Regions from separate parts of the Homo sapiens genome. Here all the other regions are reported to be linked to region 6. Evidence: microRNA targets listed by miRTarBase, many of them from high-throughput screens and not tested one by one. Region 6 holds a microRNA gene; each other region holds the end of a gene's coding sequence.

The links. Region 6 holds the annotated microRNA hsa-miR-629-3p (GUUCUCCCAACGUAAGCCCAGC, at 2,162-2,183, shown strand). A microRNA usually pairs through its seed, bases 2 to 8, with sites in the 3' UTR of a target mRNA and lowers its output. Matches are read on the target gene's strand: a 7mer-m8 pairs with bases 2 to 8, a 7mer-A1 pairs with bases 2 to 7 and ends in A, and an 8mer does both.
Region 1: the mRNA of EPB41L1 is a reported target of hsa-miR-629-3p. The part of its 3' UTR that is shown has no 7-base or 8-base seed match.
Region 2: the mRNA of SDK2 is a reported target of hsa-miR-629-3p. Seed matches in the 3' UTR shown: 8mer at 371-378, 8mer at 951-958 and 7mer-m8 at 1,835-1,841.
Region 3: the mRNA of TMEM233 is a reported target of hsa-miR-629-3p. Seed matches in the 3' UTR shown: 7mer-m8 at 2,540-2,546.
Region 4: the mRNA of FAM229B is a reported target of hsa-miR-629-3p. Seed matches in the 3' UTR shown: 7mer-m8 at 1,820-1,826, 7mer-A1 at 1,553-1,559, 7mer-A1 at 1,534-1,540 and 8mer at 959-966.
Region 5: miRTarBase lists IPO11 as a target of hsa-miR-629-3p. Seed matches in the 3' UTR shown: 7mer-A1 at 1,487-1,493.

What each region holds. Positions count from the first base shown.
Region 1 is chr20:36,228,888-36,231,887 of GRCh38, reverse strand. EPB41L1 (erythrocyte membrane protein band 4.1 like 1) reads right to left here. Exons shown (of 22, transcript NM_012156.2): 22 at 1-2,556. The coding sequence ends at 2,548. The region is part of intron 1 of LOC105372602 (a long non-coding RNA gene); the gene reads left to right. Among named protein-coding and RNA genes, the nearest start is that of AAR2, 6.1 kb to the left of the region's middle.
Region 2 is chr17:73,335,789-73,338,788 of GRCh38, reverse strand. It overlaps SDK2 (sidekick cell adhesion molecule 2), which reads left to right. Exons shown (of 45, transcript NM_001144952.2): 45 at 1-3,000. The coding sequence ends at 202. Among named protein-coding and RNA genes, the nearest start is that of CDC42EP4, 25 kb to the right of the region's middle. RefSeq lists an enhancer at 1,158-2,057.
Region 3 is chr12:119,640,197-119,643,196 of GRCh38, forward strand. TMEM233 (transmembrane protein 233) reads left to right here. Exons shown (of 3, transcript NM_001136534.3): 3 at 503-2,879. The coding sequence ends at 509. The region is part of intron 1 of PRKAB1-AS1 (PRKAB1, TMEM233 and CCDC60 antisense RNA 1); the gene reads right to left. Among named protein-coding and RNA genes, the nearest start is that of PRKAB1-AS1, 26 kb to the right of the region's middle.
Region 4 is chr6:112,100,537-112,103,710 of GRCh38, reverse strand. FAM229B (family with sequence similarity 229 member B) reads right to left here. Exons shown (of 4, transcript NM_001033564.3): 4 at 921-3,041. The coding sequence ends at 2,924. Among named protein-coding and RNA genes, the nearest start is that of FAM229B, 15 kb to the right of the region's middle. RefSeq lists an enhancer at 2,679-3,174.
Region 5 is chr5:62,626,844-62,630,017 of GRCh38, forward strand. IPO11 (importin 11) reads left to right here. Exons shown (of 30, transcript NM_016338.5): 30 at 311-1,739. The coding sequence ends at 475. It overlaps IPO11-LRRC70 (IPO11-LRRC70 readthrough), which reads left to right. Exons shown (of 4, transcript NR_073584.1): 4 at 311-1,746. Among named protein-coding and RNA genes, the nearest start is that of LRRC70, 50 kb to the left of the region's middle.
Region 6 is chr15:70,078,396-70,081,569 of GRCh38, reverse strand. It overlaps MIR629 (microRNA 629), which reads left to right and starts at 2,102; the gene lies at 2,102-2,198. The region is part of intron 4 of TLE3 (TLE family member 3, transcriptional corepressor); the gene reads left to right. RefSeq lists enhancers at 2,038-2,644, 2,645-3,174.

The sequences.
Region 1 (3,000 bases), not on the chromosome of region 6:
AGGATGGAGCCACCACTCCAGCTCTTGACCCAGAAAGAGGGGGAACTCTCAAGAAGGGCAGGAAGAAGGTTCTGTGGCTTTTCCACCAGGATTGTAGAAAGAACCTGGTGTATGGAAAGTGTGCTGCTACACTCAGGGGGAGTTGGAGTGGACCCACCGGCCTGCACCAGGGGGAATGCCACTGATTCTGCTGCCCCGCTGAACTTCCCATTTGCCCAGAGAAGCAAATGCTATTCTGATTTCCTGCCCTGCCTCAGGCCAGCACCAGCTAAGCAGCTAAGGTGTATGTCATCACTGACAAGCCAAAGGGACGCATCTAACCTGGGCCGCCTGGGGGCATCCCTGGGCTATGCCCCGATAGGTTGGCGAGAGTGGGGAGATGCTCTCAGATGGGCCAGCCATGGTTGAAATATAAAGCTGGCTCAGGTGGCTCCTCAGGTTCCGCCCTCCCCTCCCACCTTCTTCAGCCTGAGAATAGTCCCTGGCACAAGCAGGTAATCAGTAAATACTTGTGGAATGAATTTATTAACTGGTTTAGAAGGAGGACTGGGAGGTAAAATGGAACTGAGAAATTCGCAGTGCAGTGGGACATTTTCCCTCATCAAGGGGCACTTTCTGAGCTCAGAGAAGTAGCTTGTGGCAGACAAGCCTGAGGAAGCCCACGTGTGGCAGAGAGCAATGCCAAGCTTGTGATGGGAGCTTCTTGAAGGGTTCCTGTGGTCTTGGGGTAATTTCTGGGCACAAGCTCAGAGTTCAGCTGTTGACTGAGAGGGAGGTCTCCAAGCCAAGGTCTTATGCAGAGCTGGAGCCTATGAGCAACATCACCCGTCAGTCTCAGCTTTGTCCTGGGACAGGGGAGGGCTTTGCAAATGCAGTTTTGATCTTTCAGGGTCTGCCCCATGAAGCCTCCTTACCATGGCTACTTTGGCCTGAGAAGAAGAAATGATTCAGAACAAGGAAGAGAGTAGAGGAAAAGGCTTAGCTGGGAATTTTTAGACAGTCAGGTTAAAGCCACCATCTTCTACAATGGCTGAGAGCACCACCTCCCTTTGGATATGGAGTTGGTTATTACAATGGGGTCAGGGAAGGGCAGAATGTGGCAAAAAAAAAAAAAAGAGAGAAAGAGAGAGAAGACTGAAAACCAAGGCAAGCCCCGTAGGGAGATAAGGACTAAGCCAGGGACCTCTACTGTGGCAACTTCAGCAGCAGAGTCCCAGACTGGGACCCAGTACCTGAGCACAGACCAGGCCCTGACTGTTACTACCAGGGGGGCAGGGAGAAGGTGTCTTGAACTGGCATTTTGGGGACGACATCTGTGTTGCTTCTTTCTTGCCAAACCCACACCTCTCCATTAGGGCCCCCCACCCCTCCCCACCAATCAACCAATTACAAACACCACACACAGTATTACTACACTGAACCCGTCAGCCCCTACTGTGAGCCAACCCACACCCAGAGTCCAGGTCTCCTTAGCTGGGCCAGTTCAGTGAGATCTAGGAACCTCAGGATACATCAATCACAGTCAGATAATTATAATTTTAGAATGTCAGCTTCATACTTACCAGCACTGTTTATTTTAATATTTTTTCCTGTTATATGTAATATACATAACTTCAAAGCACATCCGTACAAACCTCCTACAAGCTGCACCTTCATAATGAGAAACCATAAGCATACAATGTCTACTTCCCTTCCTGTGGCTTCGTTTTCTGTTCTTGCTTTCTTTTCTTTTTCTCATTTCAAAGGAGAGTCATCTGCAGTGGCCCTCAGAAGGACCAGGACACAGAGGGTGAAGGGTGTGGGGTGGGGGAAGGGGGAAGGGGGAGGAGGGAGCCGAGACAGAAAATGACAGCAAGACATTGAGAGTTGAGGGTGAGGGGAGGCGGGAGAGAGGAAGGTAGGTTTTGCAGCCCAGTGTCAAGATCCAGAAAGTAAGAATCCAGTGTTCCTCCTCTTTCTTTCCAAGTGGGGAATTTTCTTTTTTTCTCGGAAAATGGTTGACTGTGCGTGTCTTGCTGCTGTGACTTCTCTTGCTTTGCTGTGCAAGTGTTTTCCTTTGCATTCAAGTGGGCCTTAGAGATGCTGGAGAAGAACAAATGGAATTGCTCGTCTGCTAACTGTAACGTGCAGAACCAGGGCGGGAGGGACTTCTACAATCATCGTGGTCTGGCTTGCGTTTCTTATTTGGCGGGGGAAAGGGGTGAGCAAGGGATTATAGTTATTATATAATTTTTTTTCTTGAAAAAAATCCCACCAGTTCTTCAATTTGTCTGCAAAGGAAATGTAGGTGTTCAGATGTCGGTTGTTGCTGTCAGCCAACTGCTCTGCCAGCCCCAGCAGCAGTGCAAGGATGCGGTGTTTCCTGTATATATATCTATATCTCTATATATCTATATATATATGCTTTTCCCTTCCCAGTCTCTCATCAGTGACAGTACGTCGCAGCTGGGACGTCAGTGTTGCGTCGGAGAATCCAGAATGAAGGCCCCTTCTTAATGGTTCTCTGGCTTGGGTTGGACCAGAAATGCCAGGATCTCTTCACAGAGGTCAGGATTCCTGGAAGCCAGAGGCATGGGGTAGAATGGGGGGTGGGGAGTGGGGGGAAAGGAAGGAAGAGGACAAGAAAAATTAGTAACTTCTGTCACTTGTTTTAAAATACATGGCAAGAGGTTGTTTTTGCTACCCTTTACCATATGCCCTTTATTGTGACTCAGCAAGGTAGAGTGACTTGCACCTGTAATCCCAGCTACTTGGGAGGCTGAGGTGGAAGGATCTCTTGAGGTGAGAAACTCAAGGCTGTAATGTGTAATCATCATGCCTGTGAGTAGCTATTGCACTCCAAGGCCACGCAGCTTGTGTGTGGCAGCAGAGAACCGAACCCACATCTGTTGGATTCCAGAGCCCATGTGTGTTTGCTCGCTTGTTTCCAGGGAGGTGGTAATCTTTTACTTTGGCCTGACAATGTGTTAAAATGTCCTTTAACACCGAGAAGCTAAGATC
Region 2 (3,000 bases), not on the chromosome of region 6:
CTCGGGTGAGCCAGACCACACCACCGTCACCAACAGCACCAGCACCCAGCAGGGCAGCCTCTTTCGGCCCAAGGCCAGTCGGACTCCAACGCCCCAGAACCCCCCTAACCCCCCAAGTCAGCAGAGCACCCTCTACCGTCCCCCCAGCAGCCTGGCCCCAGGCTCCCGGGCTCCCATAGCAGGATTTTCATCATTTGTTTGACATCAGAAGAGGAAAAAGCAGAAAGAGAAATGGCACCAAACTCCTCCTTCACCCCTCCTCTCACTGCCTGCCAGAAAACAAAAACACCAAGAAACCAAGTCAACTTTTCACCTCCTGAGTTTATTTTTCCAGAGATTCCAGGGCCAGCAAAGCCGGCGTTCAGAAGGAGGGAGAAAACCGTGAGAGGATGTGTGTGGCCAGCAGCTCTTCAGCTTTGAGATGGTGGGGTTCACTGCTCCCTTGGGAATTACACGGAGCTGGGGAAGTGGCTGTGTCACTGCTATGGACACGGAGTGGGGCGGGCATCTGGAGAGAGAGAGGGAGCGGAGGCTAAGGACTGGAGGCCGCCAGGCAGGCGTGGCCGAGGGAAGAAAAAGCTTCTGGATGTCCAGCCAGCTGCCCCCTTCCAGCCCCTCCAGGACCCCTGGACCCACTGCCGCTGCTCTCTGCAAAAAGAATGGGCATCCCGGAGGCCACGCCTATCTTCTCTCTCTGCTCCTCCTTCCCTCCATGCACCATCACTGTGGCTGGCAGGCATCGGACAGCCTCATCCAGACCCCCTGCCCTGTCTTGGCAACCTCTACTGCCCATCTCCCCTGCTCAACTTCTCCACCAAGCATTTGGTTTATTTAGAAAAAGGAAGAAAAACAAAAAACAAAAAACTAAAGGGTGAGAATTTGCTTAGCGCCTTCCTTGTTCCTGCATATTTTTTAAAATATTGAATCCAAGGAAGAGAGCCCAAGGGTAGGGGAGAAACCCCCCACAACTGACCCCTGCCTCCCTGTGCTGGAATTGACTTTCCTGAGCATGGACAAGGAAAGGTGAAGTCTGGGGAGCAGAGGTGTAAATAAGGCGACTGGCCTTGGCACTGTGGGATGATTAGGTTTAACGCATTGTGGGCAAGATAAGAATGACACTTTGACTGTTCTCTTTCTTCCAATCCAGGTTCCATCCGTCCTCTCTTTAAAGGGGTAGTCAGCTTCCCAAGGCTGGGGAGTGGGGCACAGCTGAGGGATCTCCCTCTGGGCAGACACGTCACTCTCCACTGGATAGATCCTCACCACACACACACACACACACACATCTCCCATGCACTTACAAGGAACAGGGTCTAGGGATCCTCTCCAGAACAAACTCATCTGGGCCCTCCTAGCCAGACAGCACACTCACTTTCAGATCTGTGTCCCTCTCACTGCCACCCGGCAGCCTCCTAAGCACAGAGGCACAGGAGCCCAGAGGGGTGGCCCAAGTCCCTGGTCCAGAGGCTGGAATACCCAGAGTTTGCTCAGTCAGCCTAGCACCCAGTTTACAGGCAAAAAGGCAAAGACACCCTAACCCCCAGTAACAGCTTCCAGGCTGGGCTCCGCCTGGCCAGGGCGGGGAGGGGAAGGGGCAGGTCAGGAAGCTCAGTCCAAAGTGGACCCAGCATTTGAATTGCACGCCCAGCAGGGGCAGGTCAGATGGGACCAAGTGACAAGAATAGCTGATGGGAGGGAATGCTTTTACACACACACACACACACACACACACACATACACATACACAATCTGCTCCAAGGAGTGTTCTGCAAAAAGCCACATCCAGTGGCCAGGATCTTCCCGTCCACTTGGTACTTACGGATGCCAGGGTTTAGGGAGAAGCCTTTCTATCTAACTCCATACATTGTCCAAGGCCCTCTGTGCCCTCAGCCAGCCCTGTAAGGCCAGCCCAACACCTGCCCCACCGCTGAGATGGGTGGCAGATGGCCCACAGGGGCCTGTCTGATTCAGCGTGAGCCCCTTCGTGGAGCAGGGCTCCCTCTGTGCACTGTGTACAGGCGCTGCTGGCCCTGCCCAAGAGATGATGCTCTGTTGGGGTGGGTGAGCAGAGTTCAAGGAAGCCCAAGTAGGAGATTTGGGAAACATGCCAAGGTAAGAGAGAGCCTGGACCACTCTCCTACAGCCCCAAGTCAGTCACTGTGCTAATGGTGACCGGGAAGGGAAGTCAGGGTCTGGGGCCCAAAGAACGGGCACACCCAGCCATGAGTTTTTCCTGAAGCACTTGACCCCTGGGAAATGTGAACGGGGAGATGCTGGAAGATGGCTCAGCAGACAGGCCAGCCCAGCTCCAGTGTCCAAAAAGCGGTTTCTCCAATAAGGAGGCCTGGGAAGGGAAGCACAATCTTCCCCAAAGGAGAACCAAGGGCTGAGGTTCTGCCCCTCCAGGAAGTAAGGTGCTCTCGGGGCCTCCTTGGACTTGTCTGGGGGCTGCAGTGGAGTCAGCTGGACACCTGCTCCACCCCTGCCACCTCCGCCCCCACCCTCTGCAGCATCTGGCATCTCCATGGCAGCACATCTGCAGCTGCCGGCCTGTGATCGTGCCGCACAGCTTTCTTTTCTTTCCTCTCATCTTTTTTTTTTTTTTTTTTTTAAATAACTTCATCCCTTTCCCTCTCTGCTGAGCATTTAACCATTTAAGGAAGTTCCCAGTTTGCATTAGGGAATTATTTAAGCCCAGCCCAGTGAGGGATTATTTGGGAGGAAGCAGGAGTGAGTAAAAACATTGTGTCTGTGTATATATTGCACATGAGGTCAATTTTCCTTTGCCTTTAATGAATCACCTGGTGCACTAAGATATTCCACCCCCCCACTCCCCACACGCTCATTCGCACCCATGCTGACACCTACGTGTACATGCGGGATGGTGCCCATGCACGCCTGTGCTTACACACATGCACACACAAATATGCACAGAACACACATCTGTATGTGTGTTAGCAAAGAGACTCCTGAACTCCCTCTGATGGCTGAAGCCATCTC
Region 3 (3,000 bases), not on the chromosome of region 6:
CAGGCTGGAGTGCAGTGGCACAATCTCGGCTCACTGCAAGCTCCGCCTCCCGGGTTCACGCCATTCTCCTGCCTCAGCCTCCCAAGTAGCTGGGACTACAGGCACCCGCCACCACGCCCGGCTAATTTTTTTTGTATTTTTAGTAGAGATGCAGTTTCACCATGTTAGCCAGGATGGTCTCTATCTCCTGACCTCGTGATCCACCCGCCTCAGCCTCCCAAAGTGCTGGGATTACAGGCGTGAGCCACCATGCCTGGCCTGTTTTTGCTTTTGTTTTTTTGCACGTACCACATGTAAGATAAAATAAGTTTTACAAATAGAATATGTTTCTCAAAAGGAAGCCCCTGCTTAGAGTCAAAAGTGTGCACGCAGGCTGGTACATTTCAACATGTGTTTAACCAGAGTCATCATCATCAAATAAGGAAGGCATCGAGCTGGGAAAGCCAACCACAGAAGCTCAGCCCACGGTCTTTCTCTCTCTCTCTCTGTCTGTACCACACAGTGCCTGAGGAACCAGCGGTCAGTGGGCTGTGAGCGTGGAGGATGGACCTCATCCACACACACCCCAAAGGAGTTTCTAAGGAATGGATCCTTGACTTCAGACTGTGAGATCTTTTCCTCCAGGACTCTCCAGAGGCAGGTCCCTGGCAAATGAACAAGAAAAAAAAAAAAAAAAAGTCCAAAATTTAGGCAATCCAAGCTGCACAGCCGGATCAGCCAAAGTCATTGATTTGTAAAAATGAAAAGAAAACAGAAAAAAGAAAAATGAAGTCTCACTGTCTCAGTTTAGCGAATCCCGTTGTGTCCACTCCTGTCCTCCAGAGGCGAGCCTCAGGAAATCACATAACTTTTCACTGAGGGGATCCAGGGGGTCTCCATATAGGGGGAGATGGAGGTTTCTAGGAAGAGCAGCAGGTGCTGGTATTTACAATGTTGAGCACAAACATTTGCAGCATGTTTAAAATTGTCTAGTAGAGTTCAAGTTGTGGATTTGCTTTTCCTTTTATTCTTATAACCTTCAGTAACTCCTCCTCTGGGAGTCAGCACTCCCATGCCCAGAGTTCACCCATCTGGTCATCAAACACTCAAAGAAGGGGCTTTTCTGGCCTTTTGTCTTGATGCTTATATTTCCAAATAGGCCCCCTCCCTTGCTTGCATCCACGTTGGTCAACTTGACCAAAACCTCACTCTTCACTCAAACAGGCTCTGAGAATGGACTTAGTGGCCAATTCTAGGTACATGAGCACTTCCTGTATCCCAGTTTTGGGAATAAACTGGCTGTATTTATAGAATGTGCTTTTTTTTTTTCAATTTCTCACTCTCTCTCCTATCTCTAGCAAGTCTCAGGCAAGATCTTTGATTTTCCTGGATGCCACCTGGAAATGCCACCCATTGTGTTTCTTTTCTGTCAAATGTAAACCCTTTAGATGTGAATGTACTGGTTTAATGATGCCATTATTCTGCCTGCCAGAACGCAGTAACCCAGTGTCTCACAGAGCACAAGGGGTGTGCCACTGGTGGTACACAAGATAATTTTTAAGTAGTTTCTAGGAACAACATTAAGTAATACCAAATCACAAAGAATGTTTCCCCTTTTCTATTCTTTTTTCATCCTGATTACAGCAAGGAAAAAGTCTCTGTTTAGTGCTAGCAGGTCCTTTACACCTTTCAGACACTATGGCTCTTTTCCCTTTTTAGCAAAGAAAGAGCAGGCCTCAGAGTCTTCTGTCTAGATAGAATTTAATGATATTGTTTTGTGTCATGGTATTTATTTTATTTATTACCTTCCATTTACAGCTTCCCACAGTGGGGGATGTGACATATTGTTTCTGTTCAAATAAATTAAGAAAAACAAGAGAACTCAAGAAAATATCAAGTAATTAACACACCAGATAAGTATATGTGGCAAAAGTCACTTCAAAGAATTAATGTCAGAAAGATGGTGATAATGAAGCAAAAGAAAGGCAGATTATGCTGGCCGGGCGTGGTGGCTCACGCCTGTAATCCCAGCAATTTGAGAGGCTGAGATCACTTAAGGTCAGGAGTTTGAGACCAGCCTGACCAACATGGTGAAACTCCATCTCTACTAAAAATACAAAAATTAGCCAGGCGTGGTGGTGCATGCCTGTAATCCCAGCTAATAGAGAGGCTGAGGCAGGAGAATCACTTGAATCCAGAAGGCGGAGGTTGCCGTGAGCTGAGACTGTGCCACTACACTCCAGCCCGGGGTGACAGAGCAAGACTCCATCTCAAAAAAAAAAGAAAAGAAAACGAAAGAAAAAGAAAAAAGAAAGGCAGATTATTCTAATTGAATGAATAAGAGGCTGAGAGTCAATACCTAGTTCCAACGCCCTTTTGTTTTTGCAGGGTTTTTATTGGCCACTAACTAGCTATGCAAGCTGATTTTAGGCAAGTTTCATAGCCTCTCTGTGCCTAAAATTCCTTCACCTGCAAAATGGGGATAAGAATGCCTGCCTACTTACCTCACAGTGCTGTTATGAGAATTAATTGTTGTAATAGTTGTGACTAACCATTGGCGGGGAGAATTCTAAGTACTATACCAATACAAATTTCAGCATTTTTTCATATACTGAACCCTAGCAAAAAAAAAAAAAATTCTGATGAACATCAGATTCAACCTGTCATTTTACCCGGATGTTGTGATGAGCCAGCACTTGTCCCAGGAGGACGTTGAATCAGGGACACGAAATCTCAGCACACAGAGATTCTAGCATCATTCCAATAGATTGGACCCTGATTTCTGTTTCTGACATCCTGTTTTTTGTTTGTGCGTGTTTGGGTCCCTGGTCTTTTACCCAAATCAAATGAAAAGTGTTGCTCAGAGGCAGAATAAAAATGGTTTTAAGTAAGCCTGTGTACCACAGTGTGTGAATTGTGTTTTCTTGGGGTTCCCCACCTTCCAGAGATTTCCGTAACCAAAATAAGCTCATCTAGTCCAGCATCAGTCCCCAGGGAAGAGCCCAGAGAGGCCAGAGGTGG
Region 4 (3,174 bases), not on the chromosome of region 6:
CATCAAATTGGGGGAAAATTTGACCATTATTTCTTCAAATATTTTTCTATCCCCCTCCATTCTTCTGAGAAGCCACTTACATATATATTAGACTGCTTGATAATGAAACACAAAACTTATACGCTTTTTTCTTTGTACTTAATGTTGGATAATTTATATAGCTATATATTCAAGTTCATTAATATTTTCTTCTCCAGTATCTAATCTCTTAATCCTATTCAGTGTATATTCTTACTTCAGATATTGTATTTTTCATCTCTAAAAGTTCTATTTGGGTCATTTTTATACCTTCCATTTATTTCTTCATTATGTTTTTATCTACTACTTGAACGATATTTATGGTAGCTGATCTACTGTATTTGTCCATTTTCACACTGCTATAAAGAACTACCTGAGACTGTGTAATTTAGGAAGAAAGGAGGTTTAAATGATGCAGTTCCACAGGCTTAACAGGAAGCATGGCTAGGAGGCCTCAGGAAACTTACAATGGCAGAAGGCAAAGGGAAGCAAGCACATCTTACCATGGTGGAGCAGGAGACACAGAGGGAAAAGAAGGAAGTGCTACACGCTTTTAAACAACCAGATCTCATGAGAACTCATTCACTATTATGAGAACACCAAGGGGTGTTCTCCATATCCATGGAGAATACTCCATATTCATATCCATATAGGTGTTCACCATAATCCAGTCACCTCCTATCAGGTCCCTCCCCCAACACTGGGGGTTACAATTCAACATGAGATTTGCGTTGGGACGCAGAGCCAAACCATATCATTTACTAATGCCATCATCTGTCATTCTCAGTCTATTACCATTGACTAAAGATTCTCTTGACTGTGGATTGCCTTTTCCTTTTTTTTTTCATGCCTGGTAACTTTTTATTAGATGCTAATCATTGTGAATGTTACACTTTTGGTGCTGGATTTTATTGTAGTTTTTATTTTTATTTTGATGGGTTTTCTCCCCTTGGATGCACTCAAGTTACTTGAAATCAGTTTGATCCTTTCAAATGTTGCTCTTAAACTCTGTTAGGGCAAGTCCAGAGTAGTCTTCAGTCTATTCCCATCTCCCTAACCTAACCCTAACCCTACTTTGCCAATATTTTGCTGAAGACTCTACTCAATGATCCATGTACTATATTAAAAGATCCACTATTGTTGAAACACATATTCTACCCAGCCTTGTATGAGCTCTGAGGAATTTTTCTTTGTTTTTCTTTTTTTTTGAGACAAAGTCTCACTCTGTTGCCTAGGCTGGAGCACAGTGATGCAATCTCAGCTCACTGCAACCTCTGCCTCCTGGGTTCAAGCTATTTTCCTGCCTCAGCCTCCCAAGTAGCTGGAATTACAGGCACCTGCCCATCATACCCGACTAATTTTTGTATTTTTAGTAGAGTCGGGGTTTCACCATGTTGGCCAGGCTGGCTTCGAATGCCTGACCTCAGATAATCCATCCACTTCGGCCTCCCAAAGTGCCAGGATTACAGGCATGAGCCACCAAGCCCAGCCCTCTGAGGAATTTTTCATCACTCCTTTCTCCTTCCTGTCATTTTTTCTCCAGCCTCAGGCAATTTCCTGCCTCGATTTTGTTTTCTTCCTTTAAGGAATGTTCTATTTTTATTTGGCAGATAAAATGAGGTTACTTAGAGATCATCTTGAGTCTCTCAAGGCTTATTTTTAAGCTTTCTTAAAATTGGTATACATTAGCCTTTAGTCTAGCTCCAGTTTGGATCTCTTATGAAAGTACAACCTTTCTGAGTCTCTACTCAATGCCCCACATGTTCAAGATCTTTCCACTTTAACTGGTTGGCATTCAAACTTCTCCCAGCTCAGTGTGAGCTCTGAGAGTTTTTCCTCTTATAACTCCCTGGCAGTTTTTCTTTTCACCTAATGCAACACATATGCATCTACGTCTATTTAATTATAAGTTAATAAACTTTTCATTTTAAAAGGCTTATATGTATATTTTCAGAAGCAGCAAGGTAGACAAAAAACACTGGTGAAAATTGTATCTGATCCTAAAGTCAGTCTTTTGGAGAAGACAATTTCATTAGATGGGTGCTGACAGCCATCGAGAGAAAAGGAAAGCAGACTGAGTTTCTGGGGACTACTGCAAGAAGAAAAAGAGAACATAGAGAGCTGGCCTCATCCTCAAAAGTGATCCCACATCTAACCAAATTAAAAAATCCACATGAGGTTTCTCAATACCTACTGTAAACAATTTATCAAGATACCTGGTTAGCACTTCGTGTACAAAGTGATAACCAGACGTCATTTTTCTTGGAAAAATCGGGGTTGGAACCACAGCTTTGACTTCATTATCAATATATTTAACCAACAATCTGGGCTCCTCTATGGAAGTGGCTTAAATGCCTTGCAGATTAACCATGGACTAAGAACTTTCTTTGATCTTGAATACTGTTCCAAAACACACAACCCCAGGGCTCCATTTCTCACCCAATATAATCATTCCTGAGCAGAGCATTATCAAATAGTATCAAGCCAGGAAACTGGCTTAGGGTACTAAGGTGAAAGGATTTAGCCAAGTAGCAACCCAAATATGAACAAGGAAATGAGCTTAAGACACATTAAGCATTTAGAATAAGCCCCACCTGACTGATGACCATGGTGGATTAAGCTTCATCTTTAATTATTGATATTAATGATCTACTGTGAGCAAGATGATCTCTAAGGTACTTTCTAATTGTGAAATATTATTCTGTCTTATGTATCAGACATAACTGATAGCCTATCACTACATGTGCTTTACTGACTACATTTCTGTCGGTCTTACTAAAAGTAAAGAGCTCAACTGTTGTCATCATCTAAAGGTGCCACCACTTTTATTTGTTTACCAGATCACCAGATGATACTGGTCCATTACCCTTGACCTAGTCAGACCTTGACAAAAGACTTAATGGTGCTATTTAGGATGCATTTCCTTGCTGCTTTGTGCAGGTGGCTTTCTCGTTGTTGCATAAACAGTGACGGGAACATCAGTTATTGTCAGGCAATGACTTCCAGGGCACCTCCGGAGTTGCCTGAATAAAAAAGCAGATGACATGTAGTTAGATACTAAAAAGAGGAAATATTTTTTTTCAGAGCACCAAAGTTTGATTGTATATTTAACTGTTTTAAATCACTTTGAAATCTCTGAATGTCATACAATGAGTA
Region 5 (3,174 bases), not on the chromosome of region 6:
ATGTTCTGTTTCTTTTAGAATGCTTTCTACTAGGCTTTGATGCTTTAAATGAATGAGTCCCCCAGCTCTTGAGAAATGCCTGATCAGAAAACATGTTCAGGGGGCGCTAGGGAACTGAAGTTAAGACTAATTGAATGAAATTTTCTTTGACAGATTTTTCCACCATGAGATTAGTACAGAATCTGTGTGAGAAGAGAGGCAGAAGCAATTTTGTTACTGTAGAAGAGATTACAAAGAACTTTTGTAAATTGCAGGTAGGAGAGACTTGTTTTGCTTTTTTGACAGTCTTGCTCCTCTCTGTATCCCACAGCTGGCCCTGAAGGACCCTGTTCATACAGTGTCACTGCAGCAGTTCATCTACGAGAAGCTCAAGGCACAGCAGGAGATGCTAGGAGAACAAGGTTTCCAGTCCCTCATGGAAACAGTGGATACGGAGATTGTCACCCAGCTACAGGAGTTTTTGCAAGGATTCTAAGAGCACATGACATGTGGCTGCCTCCCCTTTCAGAAACAAGCTGAGTAACCCAGCCTGCCGTTTGTATGTGAGAGCCTGCTGAGATGAAGAAATCACTTCATGAAAATAAGCAAAGACCACACATTTTTTACTACAAAATGTAAAGGATAAATGTAAATCCTGCATAACTAAAATCACAAACCTATTCCTCAAAAGAATTTAATTTTATATTTATGAGGGGGCCCTTCACTAAAAAGTACATGTAAAAGTACATTTGATGACAATAGCTGCTTAGTTTCCTGTTAAGAGAAGAAACTTTATCTTTTAATTATGTGCTCTTAATATTTGAAGATGAGAGTTAATACCTGAGATGTTTTTCTGCAACCAAAATTCATTAAATTTGGCTGCCTTATCCTTTTTTTAAGCTAATGAAACTACAGGTTTGAAAAATGACAAAGCTGTTCAGATGATGCTATTAAAGAAATGTGTGTACTAAGCAAAAATATATAAATAGTGACAAATACACATTACCAAGCTTATCTTGCAAGGGAGTTATTTTCATCTAACATAGAAAGTGTGTTTTATCAGACAAATGCTTTTATTTTCATTCTAATAATTTGATACAGAAATTAGTAAAGGCATTTTTTTCTTTTTTTTTCCAGTAAATACATTGGGTCTATAAATGTGCATTTGTAAGGGCCACAAAAGTGAACGTGTGGTACTGTAGTACCACGTGGGAGACCTCTGGTTATGGTTTAGTCCTAGTTCCTTTGTTACTCCTGTGAGCACCGAGAAGAACTGGGCGACTCCCAGTCCCACCTGTGCTGTGACAGTCCCACGTGGCTATGACAGACTGTTTAGTACTTACCCTTCTCAGGTTCCTCAGTGCAGGGGTGCATCAGGGCCTCAATAATAGGGGTATACCTGGGAGGATCCAGCAGTAATCCCCAGGGTACTAGGATTACTAGTACTCTGATGGAACTAGTCTTCCTTCCTTATTCCTCGAACATGCAGTACATAAAAAGGGGAAAAGGAGAAAAAAAAAGCCTTACTTTGTTTTACTTGCCATTTATTGTAAGGAAACTTTAAAGCATTTTTTAGGAAATACTCAAAAGCAAGGTTGGAAAATGTTTTATCTTTCTATAGAAAGTTGGGTACAGTATGTAACTGCGGGAAACCCACTGCCCCTTTGTAAGCTGTGGAACCCAAACTGTATGGGGATATTTGATGTTTTCAGAAAGAGGAAGAAAATATGGTCCAAATTAAATTTTCCAAAGATACCTCACCTTGGACTGATTTGTCTGACTACTTTTCTTGCTCCCCCCAAAAAATGAGTTCTTAAAAATTGCCCAGTGACTTATAGAGAATTTTCTTTTATACTCTAGCTTTGATTCTGTGCTAGTAGGTATCAGTATTGCAGGTGGCAAATCCTAGTTACCCTTTTAATTTATCTTCATTTAAAGACAAAAAGCTCCTTTCAAGTGATATTTCTTTATCAGTATTACTCAGTCCTGAAGACTGATCCAAGAAGAATTTCTTTTTGTTGACTTAATTATTTTCATTTGAAACACTAACTCATTAGTGTTATCAGAAATTCTCAAACATGCTCATTTTTCAGTTATAGTAAAGTACTCATCCTTCTAATTCCTGACAGATTTCATTATAGTGCCATACCAAATATTACTGAAATAGCTACCTTGCAAAAGAAGTAAAAAGCTTATCTCAGGGAAAGAGTTTGCTTCATTTTTAAAACTCACAAGTTTAAATAGGCTTGGTAAATAGCTCAGAAAAATAATTCATGTATCTTGAATTTCTAAGTGCTCAATTAAGACATAAAGTGTAATTATTGGTTTACAGAATTCTATTCATTAACAGAACTATATAGCAAATATATTAAGTTTAGGACAAACAACTCAGCCAGGCCTCTGGCCTCTGGGTGAACTGTGGCTCCTGAAACAAGGTAATGATCATTTATACTCCAAAAACATATTCCTTTTCTATTTATTTTCTATTCCAGAGACTTCTCCCAACCCTCTCACAAAGGCCCATGTGACTAACAATAACATTTGAAAGCTTCCTTATAAGTTGGTCCCTCCTCTCTCTCCTACTAGTCATTTTAGAGAATCCACATTATTGCATACAATTTTTAAAAAGATACAATTTTTCTTGAAAAATCCTCGCTTTAATCTTTATTTTACCCATTTCTTTATTCAGTTAGTGTTTATTGAGTTCTGTTTCATGCCATAATGCTGTACCACATTCTGAGATTAGAACAGAGTACCCACCTTCATGAAATTTCACAGTTGATTAGGAACACAGACTTGCCGACATGCTGTAAGAAAATAGGGGTTCCAATGGAAGTGCACATTCTAAAGCAGTTGGCCTGCAGGGGAAGGAGATTGTGTATGAAATAAAATGATGCTGTCACTGTATAATTTGATAGTTATTTAAAAACTGCTCCCTAATGGCATGGTTTGGTGAGGCTACTTAAGCGTCAGTGGCACTATACTGGAACTGGGTAACTCCCTGACTCCAGACTCGCATCAATTTGGAGTCACTCTAACATAAAAAATCATCAGGTTTTGAAAATATTGGATCTTTGTAGCCTCACGACTAATCTCTAATTCCATGAATTAAAACATAAGGCTCACCTACTAAGGGTTGTTGTCTTTTCTTCTTCTCCAAGTCATAAGCCTATTGTATAGAAATTTAAAAGTTGA
Region 6 (3,174 bases):
GTCTTCCCTTTTGAATCACAGAAACTGCACAGTAGGGGCTTGACACTTAGAAGTATGATATCATTGTTCTTGCCTAGAGGCTCTTCCACAGTGAAGCGCAGTTTTGCTGATGGACAGATTTGAATGGCTCGTGCTCTGAAGACTGGTCCTTGGGACCCAGCCCAGGTCAGCCAGCTGCCCAGCAACCAGCCAGCATCCATCCACATCTCAAGGTGGCTTGGCTCTTCTCTGCTGGTCTTTTGTAAATTCATGTGATGCTCTGTTTTATGGAGGAAATGATAAGCTGCACGCCAATTCGGGAATATTTAGGGTTCTAAAACTCTAAATTAGGGCTCCTGGATCTTATACGTTATCTAGTTAATCCCTTCATTTTGCAGACAACGAAATTAATGCCTAGAGAAGGGAAGTGATTTGCCCAAAGCCACACAACTAAATGGAGGCAGAATTGGAGGTAGAAGCCAGCTCATCTCTGCGTGGCGTTGGAGCATAACACACTCTTTGAAGGGGCAGTTTTCTCTTCTCCTTGCCTTTATTTGGCTGAGGTTAAAAGGAATTGTGCATTCAGAGTCCACAGGTACACACGACAGGGCAGTTTAAAACTAACTAGCAGACAGACTCTCTGGTGGAAGTAGCTCTCGACGGTGTGTTGGACACAGTCACCTAAATTAAAAATAAGGGCAAGGACTGGCTGGGTGCTGCAAGCCCAGGAGCAGGAGGTTGCTGGGGGGTACAGATCAAGAGCAGGCTCCGTTTCCCTTAATTTAGTGTCTTGGGTCAAGGGCCAAGGATAGTCTGAAGTAGCAGCAAACGTGAATACTAGACTGTGGTTAGAGAAATAGACTTTTAGAATGCTCAAGTACCCTCGGTTTACAGCAAGATGTTCAGAGGTCCTGCTTTAATGAGGAGATGATCATGCAAATGGGAGCTACTAAGGCGCATGGAACAGATTGCTGTTTGGGAAATTACACTTGCCCCCCACTATCTTGTTTTCTGTCATTTATTTGCCTAACAATCTTGACAGAGATGCAGGGCAGATGTTACTCCCAGCGCCCAGTTGGTAGTGCAGATTCCGGATGTAGCAGGACCTCTGTCCCCATTTCTCTGAACTGCTTCTCTGTCTGTATCTAGTAGATTAGTTCCTTCTGAGGAACAATGTTTTTCCACCAACAAAGCGCCTGCTTTGAACCATACTTGAAAAGAAACTTTCAAAGGCGGCACCAGCCTCCCTGAACACCTTTTCCAAAGTGCTTTCCAAAGGGAGCCATCTTCCCACCTCCCACCACCTCTCAGATTCGCTTCTGAAGACCTGGCTCAAAAGCAGTGGCTTTGTGGGACCGAGATGGAGGGAAGGATGGAGGTCGGCCTCTGGAAACTACAGCCGCCTTATCGATAACGGATTGCGCCAAGTTGCCAAAAGGAGTTTTCCAACATACGATCGAGTTCCAGTTTGTGATTTGTGACCTGTCCCAATTGTTGAAGTCACACTTGATTTTTTTTTTTTTTTTTCCTTTTTTGGAACTGATGTTTAGAGCTTGTTTGAGTTGGATCCAATGCTGTTTTAACAGCTGTTCTAATCAGAAGTGCTGTCAATTATTAACCTTAATGGTGGTTTTTCTTTCAAAAATATTTCTCTAAGCTCTCTTGAAATGTCAAAATTTGGCTTCTTGGTAGGAAGTCATTTAGTGAAATCACTTAATGGCTGGGCATCAGTTTCCCCATCTGAAAAGTGGAGATGTTGACAAGCGCCTTCTCCGCGGGGTTATTGTGGATGCACACATGGCGAGTTGGGTGGGTGATATCAGCGGTCATTACTGTTGTTAGGAGGGCTTCTGTTAAGCCAGCTTTCCATTTCCAGGAACTTCCCCTCCCCCAAGCGCCACCCTCCAAAAAATAAACATTTCTTTAAAATGTTGAGCGAACAGCTTTCCTGTTCATGCTTTGACTCTGCAGAGTGCACGCAGCCCATTCTCAGGGTTGGGCAGCCTTTGTAGAGATGGGGGAGGCCCAATCCCTGCTTCCACTTTGTGGGGAGACCCCAAGAGGGTACTAGCAGATGATGGCACAGTGACAGCTGGGAGGGATGGGATGTGCTTGCTTCATGTCCCTTTCCCAGGGGAGGGGCTGGGTTTACGTTGGGAGAACTTTTACGGTGAACCAGGAGGTTCTCCCAACGTAAGCCCAGCCCCTCCCCTCTGCCTGCCTCAACCCTACACAGTCCTGTCTGGTGACGTGCCAAAGTCCTTCCTGCCTTGCAGAGAGGCCTCTCTTCGTCGAACATGGGCCTCAGGAAAGACAGCCTGAATGCCACTACCCCAGGCTTGTGGAAGGTTCTGCATCTGTGTGGCATTGTTGCGATAGCCCTCAGTTGATGCTTGTTTGTGGTGTTGGGAGGCAGGAACTACTTTAGGAGGGTGGAGGGGTGAGAATGAGAGAGGACTTGCCCTGAGCCACCCAGCTGTGGTCACCTGATGGCCCGGATGGCTACATAAATCCTGGGAGATCCGTTGTCCTCATAACCAGAGTGAGCTGGGCTCCAGACCAGCCCTATGGGAAGATCCTGTCTGTGGGAAGCCTTTGGCCACGTGTTTGCTGAAGGGTGTGGGGAAGGGCAAGGTCAGCTACGTTTCTTTTTTGTCAACTCCCGAGACCCTGACCCTTGGCCTGTTTACCAGTGGAAGGAGGCCATAGCCAGAACCCTTTTATAATCACCCTGCCTCCCTGCTCTCCCAGAGACTGTGAGAGTTAATAGTTGCTGAGGAGGCCAGAATGACTGGGGATGTTCTGACCTTGCCCCTGCCTTCCTGGCTGTGGGGAGGAGTAGTGGCCAGGGACCCATCTAGGTGGCTTGCGATTGGCCTGGCTTGGAGGTGCCACCCCACCCCGTTGGTGAAGGGCTTGGGCCACTGGCCACCAAGTGTATGTCAACACTCCATCCACCACGGCCCCTCCCACAGATGCTGCCCATGCTGGGGCAGGCCCAGATCCACAGCAAGGGGTCACTGCAATATGAAGTCTCAATAAATGCAGAGATGCCAGTGATACTATTCTTTGGGCCAAACATTTACGGAGCAGCTACTGTGTGCCAGACACTGCTCTATTGTTGTTTAAGATAACAGGCCTTGGACCTGTGAGCTTCCTAAACAGTAAGGTTGGTTTTTTTTGTTTATTTTTGTT